Linked DNA regions of Homo sapiens. The protein of the gene in region 2 interacts with the protein of the main gene of each other region in a biochemical or structural test. Each region holds a gene or a part of one and is shown on either strand. Other genes may lie near its edges. The genes, in order: MST1 and ST14.

Region 1 (3,343 bases), on a different chromosome or scaffold from region 2:
AGGCTTTCTGGGCTCTGGACTCCACGGATGCGTGGGCAGAGGAATGTGGGCTATGTAGTCATAATAAATTAGGACACAGAGCCTGGTTCCTGCTGGTACTTTGTACCAAACCATCCCCAACCCCACCTCCCACTCTGGGGTGCAGAGACCCTAGGTTCTGGGTGTGGCAGCCACAAGGGCTTCATCTGCCTCCAGTGTGAGAAGGGAGGGAACAGTGAGAGGCTTAGCCTCTGCCTGTCCTGGCAACCAGGACTCTGTACCAGCCTAGCTTCCCTGCTGCAGCCCCTTCCATTAGCAACTACTCTGTACCACCCTTCCCAAGAGTATGTCTGGAGGACTAGTGTGAGGCCCTGTCTTTCCACGGCACCCATGGGCAAAAGTAGTCCCAGGGACATTGCCTTGGTTGGGGAAGCCCCTAGGCTGGACAGATCACCTAGCCCAGGGTGTGCTGGGCTCAAGCCACCCGAGCCCTAGCAAGGAGTCACTGACACATTTCCTGGAAGCAAAGGCTAAGAAGCATCTGTACAGGCATAAAGAGGAAACATGGCTTTATGTCTGACAAGAAGTTTTGTCCTCCCCAAGGCATATGGCATCAAGGCTGGGCCTAACCCAGTCTCATGACCTTGTGAATCCAGTCCACAAACACAGAGACACGCGTGAAGACAGCTGGCCAGCGGGACCTTGCGCATACTCGGTTGGGGATTATAATTCCTTCCAGGACCCAGCAGTTGTGGGTAAAGCAGGCAAGTGGGCCCCCGTAGTCACCCTGGCAGGTAGGAGAACTGATGAGGGCCCCGGGCCACAGCAATGACTAGCCTGCTTCATGATAAAATAGTTCATTTCTAGCCCCCCATACCCTTCCAGGGCTGGCCCAGGGCCCTGCCACCAACCTCACAGGCCCCCACAGGGGCCAACAGTCCCTCAGTGCACATCTCACTCTCCCGCACACGTCCTCGGTGCTTGATGTTACACTCCTGGTTGGAGATGACATTCAGCAAGGCCACATTTAGGACTGTGTCATTACCCGTACCTGCAGTGAGGGGAATGGGGAGAGGGAGAGGGTCCTGCAGGAAGATCCAGGGCTGGGCCTCCTGGCCACCAGCAGTCCTGTGCACTGTGCTCTTACCTTTGGTCTCACCCCAGCCTGCAATCTCACACTTGGTCCCTGGAGGCACCACATACCATTCAGGGGGCAGGCAGATCAGGGCCACACGCTGGTTCAGGGTCACAGATCTTTAGCAAGAATGGGGGCACTCAGGGTCTGAGGCCACAAGGCCCAGCCCCACCTCACACCCTCCCAGGTTGTCCACATACCTCTCCAGCTTGAGCAGGACAAGCTGGGAGCCTGAGGGCCCACACACCATCTTGGCTACTGGGACCCGCTGTAGGCTTGGCTCTCCATGCTGTGGGTTCTGGAACAGGGTGCCCAACCATACCTCATAGCCCGTGAGAGGCATATGGCTGGGAGAGAAGCTCTGCTAGGTCATTTGTGACTCTCAGTCCATTGCCCCAAGGCTCACTTGTTAGCTTGCCTGGGGAAGGGGGAAGGTGGGATGAGACTGGGTCCCCAAACACAAGGGAGGCTCACCAGGAGGAGAAGCACTGCCGGGCAGTCAGTATCCACTGCTCCTTCACTAGAGACCCCCCGCAGAAATGCTGGCCCTGCCTAGAGGAGTGGGGAATTAGGACAGGTAACAGACTCCTGGGACAGATGCTAGACCTGCCATCTTCTGGCTAGGACCTCTGGGGGCAGGGATAGATTCCCAGCCCCCAGTGGGATAACCACAGAGGACACAACCTCAGCTCCTCTCTGTGGGAGACAGGCAGTTGTGCCTCACCGATTCCGCAAGCTGACTGTCCAGGGTGAGTTGCCCGGATGGCCCCCAACCACGCGCAGCTTGGAACGCCGCTGATCCAGCCGATCCACCCTCTTGCCACACTTCTCAAACTGCACCTGGTCTGTAGGATGGGGTGGGCTGGATGAAACCCAGACTGTGTGGATGTCGTGGGCTAAAGGGCCTGACCCATAACTGGCCCAACTCCTAACCTGGGGGGTCCAGGATTGATGGCGGCTGGTCATCAGCTGAAAGACAAAGTTCACTGGGGTTAAGGGAGCCAGCCTTTGGGTGGGGGCTGAGGCAGGGTCATGGGGGAAGCGTCACTAGTGCTCACCGCAGCGTCGCAGGGCACAGTAGTCGAATGGGGTCCTTGGGTCCATCGTGTAGCACCAGGGCCCATGGCTATCCCCATCTGGGTTCCGGCAGAAGTTCTCCTCCAGTTGTGCATGCGGTTCGGAGGTAAACGTGAACCTAGGCGGAAGCGGGAGCAAAATCGTGGCAGGGTAGTCTCAACCATTTCCAGGCTCTGGTCCCAGACACCAAAGCATGCCGCCCCAGGGTTAGGGCCCTGGCGGGGCCGGGAGCACCAGGGACTCACTGCGGCTTGTGCGGCGTCTCAGCGGACCAGCGCTGGCACTGGACACCCTTGCGGGTCTTGCTGACCGTGCCGCGGTACTGCTCCCCTGCGCCGTGGTAGCAGTCTGTGGCGGGTGCGGGCAGCCATCAGGCCGAGACCTCGCCCCGGCCCTCCGGTTCCAGGCTTCCAGCCCGGCTCTGTAGCCCCCAAGCTTGGGCCTCACCCTGGGGCCGCACGTCGTCTGTACAACGCCGGATCTGGTAGCAAAAGGCCGCGCGCATGCCGGGCCGCAGTGTGAAGCACCAGGGCGCCTCTGAGCCGTCGGGGTTCCGGCAGAAGTTCTCCCGAAGGTCTCTAAGCAGGCGCTCCACTCAGCCCTAGCCCGCCAGCCTCCAGCCTTGAGCCCGTGACTACCTTCCTCCCGTCTCACCCGCAGCAGCACGTCCCAACGCCCGCCCCCCCCCCCCACCTCACTTGCACGCGTATTTTTCTGGCGTAAATCGGTGCTGATGCGGGATTTGCGCGTCCCAACGCTGGCAAGGTACGCCCGCAGTGGTGGTATTGGCTGTGCCCCGGTAGCCCTCACCCTTCCCGCGGAAGCAGCTGACAGTTGTGGCCTCTTGGCGGGGCTGTGCCTCGGACCCTTAGATGGACCGAGATAGGTCGGGCCCCGAGCGAGAGCTGAGATCCCTCTGGGGCTGGGACCAAACCCGCCTTTCCCAGGTGTACGGTACTCCACGGGGTATGCTCTCAGGTCACGCCCAGCCCCTCTTACCTCCCCGGCCAAGCCACGCCCCTCCCCAAGGTTCCCAGGTACCCTCCCAGGCCTGGTCCCCGCCGCCTACCGCAGCGGGGGAGGTCACAGAACTCTCGCTCGATCTGCGGATCCGTAGTGTAGCACCATGGCCGCTCGGAGCCGTCAGGATTC
Region 2 (3,815 bases):
GGAAAATTCCATCTCTGCCTCTTCGATCCCATTTAGTTTGCACCAGCCCTCTCCTTATGTGCCAAAGACCTACTTCCCGGCCCAGCTGCCCCACCTTCCTCCTGCCCCAAGTCACCGGACTCAGAGCAGAAGCATCTGCCTGCAGCAGCACAAACAGGCAGATCCCCCAAAACCCGACAAGAGAAACAAGAGGTGCAGCCAGCACCTAGTAACTTCTTTTCATTCGTTTTCTTGACTTTTTATTAAATCCACATTCTGATTTCACGAGCTAGTGTGCCTTTCATTACTGACATTTTTATGGAGATACTTGTAGATTCCCATACAGTTGTAGGAAATCATACTGAGATCCTTGCCCAGTTTCTCCCAATAGTCACACCTCATAAAACTGTATCATAATACCACAACAGCAGTATCATCCGCGGATCTTATTCAGACTTCCCGTTTCACCGCTACTCACGTTAAGTATTAAGTTCCATCTATGTCATCGCTAGCGTAGTCCCCTGTCTCTGGCATCACAGTCAACATTCTGAACAGCTCCAACACGAGGATGCCCATGGCCTTCTGTAACCACAGCCACCTCCCTCCTGTCCCCCACCCCTTCAGCTCCACAATCGCTAATCTGTCCTCTACTACTAACATGGTGTCATTTCAAAAATTATGTTATATAGGCCAGGCGTGGTGGCTCATGCCTGTAATCCCAGCACTTTGGAAGGCCAAGGCGGGTGGATCACCTGAGGTCAGGATTTCAAGACCAGTCTGGCCAACATGGCGAAACCCTGTCTCTACTAAAAATACAAAAATTAGCTGGGTGTGGTGGCACACACCTGTAGTCCCAGCTACTCGGGAGGCTGAGGCAGGAGAATCGCTTGAACCAGGGAGGCGGAGGTTGCAGTGAGCCCAGATCACACCGCTGTACTCCAGCCTGGGACAGAGCAGGACTCTGTCTCAAAAAAAAAAAAAAAAAAAAAACCCATTATATTATATAAATAAATAATATGGTATGTATGGGACTGTTGGCTTTTTTTTTAACTGCACAAAATTCCCTGGAGGTCTTTCAAGTTGTTGCATCCATCAGCTTGTTCCTTTTCAGTGCTGAGTCATATTTCATGGCATGGAGGTGCCACAGTCTGTTTCTGACTTGGTGGACCCAGGGATCTGCAGAAGCTAGTGGGAAAAACCCAAGCCTGCCTGCAGCCTCTAGAACTGGGTAAGTTCTAAAACACGCTTCCATGGCTACAAATCTGAGCACCTGTTTTGGGGAAAGGACCAACTATGCAAACAGAGGGGCCCCACCCCCAGGGGAGGGCACCAGGAAGTCTGTGTCCTCTATTAGAACCAGACTCTATCCTGGGGGAATAGGATACAAGCGAGGGGAGAACTGCTGGATCTACCCTTGAAATTGGATTCTCAGAGCCGAGACAGATTCTGCAGGGCATGTCACCCACCTCTCATCCTCGCGAGACCATCCTTTTGGAAGAAATAGCATTTTCCTTAGTACGAGTATTAGGAAGCTCTTCCTTCCACCAAGTGTGATCAGCACTGCAATCACCTCTGCACTAATTAGCACTGCAACAGAACCAGCCTAGTTTCCCCACTCAGGAGACGCTCCAGTGGAAGCTCTACATCGGTGCTCGTGTGCTCTCTCAGTCTGCACCTCCTCTGGCTAAACATGCTCAACTCCTCTGATCATTCAAACAAAATGTTTTCTAAACCCTGGCCATCTGGTTCCATCTCACCCTTAGTCATCTTCCCTTGAAGACACCGTTTCCAGAATTCACCAGCATAACCCACAAGAGGTCTGACTAGCGTGGCCTCCACAGGGTCTGCTTGCCAATTACCTTCCTCATTCTGTTTGCTCTTTTTCTATTAATTGTCCAATGATGCATTCAAGTAACACACCCAAACAATAAAACGATTAAAATAAGAAGATGGAAAGAATGATATGTTCCCTCGATGAAAGCTTATAAGGCAATCAAAAATCGTTTTTCAAAAAGTAGATAATGACATGGAAAAGCTATCTAAGATAGAATGTTAAATGAAAAAAATAGGCTGGGCACGGTGGCTCATGCCTGCAATCCCAGCACTTTGGGAGTTCAAGGCAGGTAGACCACTCGAGGCCAGGATTCAAGACCAGCCTGGCCCATATGGTGAAACCGCCATCTCTACTAAAAATACAAAAATTAGCCTGGCGCAGTGGCGCACACCTGTAATTCCAGCTGCTTGGAAGGCTGAGGCAGGAGAATTGCTCAAACCCGGGAGGCAGAGGTTGCAGTGAGCCGAGATCGCGCCACTGCACTCCAGCCTAGGCGACAGAGCAAGACCCTATCTCAGAAAAAAAAAAAATAGTCACTCCTGCCCTTCGAAATTCAGCTCAGGCATCTCCTTGGAGTAATTCTGGGAGATCCCTCTCCAACACCTCCCTCCCAGACTCCTGTGATAGGGGAGGGAAGGGGGTCTGTCTTGCTCCACAAATCTAGCATGAGGTATGATATCTAATAAATGTTTGATAAGTTCATTAATAAAATCATATCTTTACTGCAGAGTGGAATTAGTGATGATTCCATTTGGAGGAGAATAGGTGTGCACACAAACAGCAGAACACACACACAAGACTTGTGGGAGAATATAAACAAAACTATTTATAGAGGCTCTAAAATCTGGGAGAGGGAATTTCAGAAGTTTCACATTTTACACTGTACATTTCTATATTGTGTGACTTCAAAAAGAAAAGCTTCCTAAATGTGGTAATGAGGAAAAAAATTTTTTTAGAAAACATGCATAGGCAATACCAAATTGTTAAAATGTCTTTGTAGGGGTATTTGTGTCATTTTTATTAAAAAAAATTTTTTTTGAGACAGAGTCTCGCTCTGTCACCCAGGCTGGAGTGCAATGGCACGATCTCGGCTCACTGCAACCTCCACCTCCCAGGTTCAAGTGATTCTCCTCTCTCAGTCTCCTGAGTAGCTAGGATTACAGGTGCCCACCGCCATGCCTGGCTAATTTTTGGATTTTTAGTGGAGATGGGGTTTCACCATGTTGGCCAGGCTAGTCTTGAACTCCTGACCTCAAGTGATCCATCGGCCCTGGCCTCTCAAAGTGCTGGGATTACAGGCATGAACCACCGCACCCGGCCTCATTTTTAAATTCTTACTACTTATCTGAGTTGGCTAAGTTTTCTTTAAATATGTATATATTAGACTTTTAATAATAACTTTAAAAGGTATAACCAAATAAAAACATAGGGGGAAGAAAGCACACTTCGACTTTGGGCAGTCACACTTCCATGCCTGATCTCTCCTGGGCTCACTGTCAACTCAGAACTCTGGGTCTCGTGGTTTCTGCTCCATGGTTGAGGGAGGTGGTTCAGTGAGCAAAGCACTGACTCCTGACCCAGACGGATGCATTCTGCTCAGCGCAGCCTATCAGACAGTCTGTCCAGATGCTCTGACTCATAATCAAGTCATACAAGGTATCAGCCTTTCCCTCCCAGCTGGTGTCATCTGTGGAGCTGGTAGGCAAATGCCCCAAGTCCTCATCTGAGCTGTTACTAAATAAGAAATGGCACAGAACCCAGGAAGGGGTGACGAGCAGCCTGAGGTCACCACCCAAAGTGACGTGGATTCAAGAACAGACCCCCCCTTAGGCACAGCCTTTCAATCAGACACAAGCCTACCAGAACTTCGATCCTCCAACACCCAGGGCTCCACACCCAGCAGACAGGAGGCCAATAAAACACCTTGTCCAGGATACAAGTGGTGTGTGCACAACAACCAACTAGACACATTGAACCATAGACAGCAAGGAGGGGAAAGAGG

The links.
Region 1: of the proteins of ST14 (region 2) and MST1, one has a biochemical effect on the other in vitro, tested with the Homo sapiens proteins (one study listed by IntAct).

Annotation. Positions count from the first base shown.
Region 1 is NC_000003.12:49,683,424-49,686,766, forward strand, and holds the end of MST1 (hepatocyte growth factor-like protein isoform 1 precursor), read right to left. Parts: coding exon 3,261-3,343; intron 3,059-3,260; coding exon 2,890-3,058; coding exon of another isoform or gene 2,885-2,889; intron 2,770-2,884; coding exon 2,639-2,769; intron 2,540-2,638; coding exon 2,437-2,539; intron 2,310-2,436; coding exon 2,173-2,309; intron 2,084-2,172; coding exon 2,048-2,083; intron 1,960-2,047; coding exon 1,839-1,959; coding exon of another isoform or gene 1,799-1,838; intron 1,667-1,798; coding exon 1,589-1,666; intron 1,533-1,588; exon of another isoform or gene 1,462-1,532; coding exon 1,315-1,461; intron 1,234-1,314; coding exon 1,127-1,233; intron 1,031-1,126; coding exon 891-1,030; intron 767-890; coding exon 605-766; 3' UTR 524-604; downstream 1-523.
Region 2 is NC_000011.10:130,166,247-130,170,061, reverse strand, and holds part of ST14 (suppressor of tumorigenicity 14 protein), read right to left. Parts: intron 1-3,815. UniProt on the Homo sapiens protein: Exhibits trypsin-like activity as defined by cleavage of synthetic substrates with Arg or Lys as the P1 site. Involved in the terminal differentiation of keratinocytes through prostasin (PRSS8) activation and filaggrin (FLG) processing.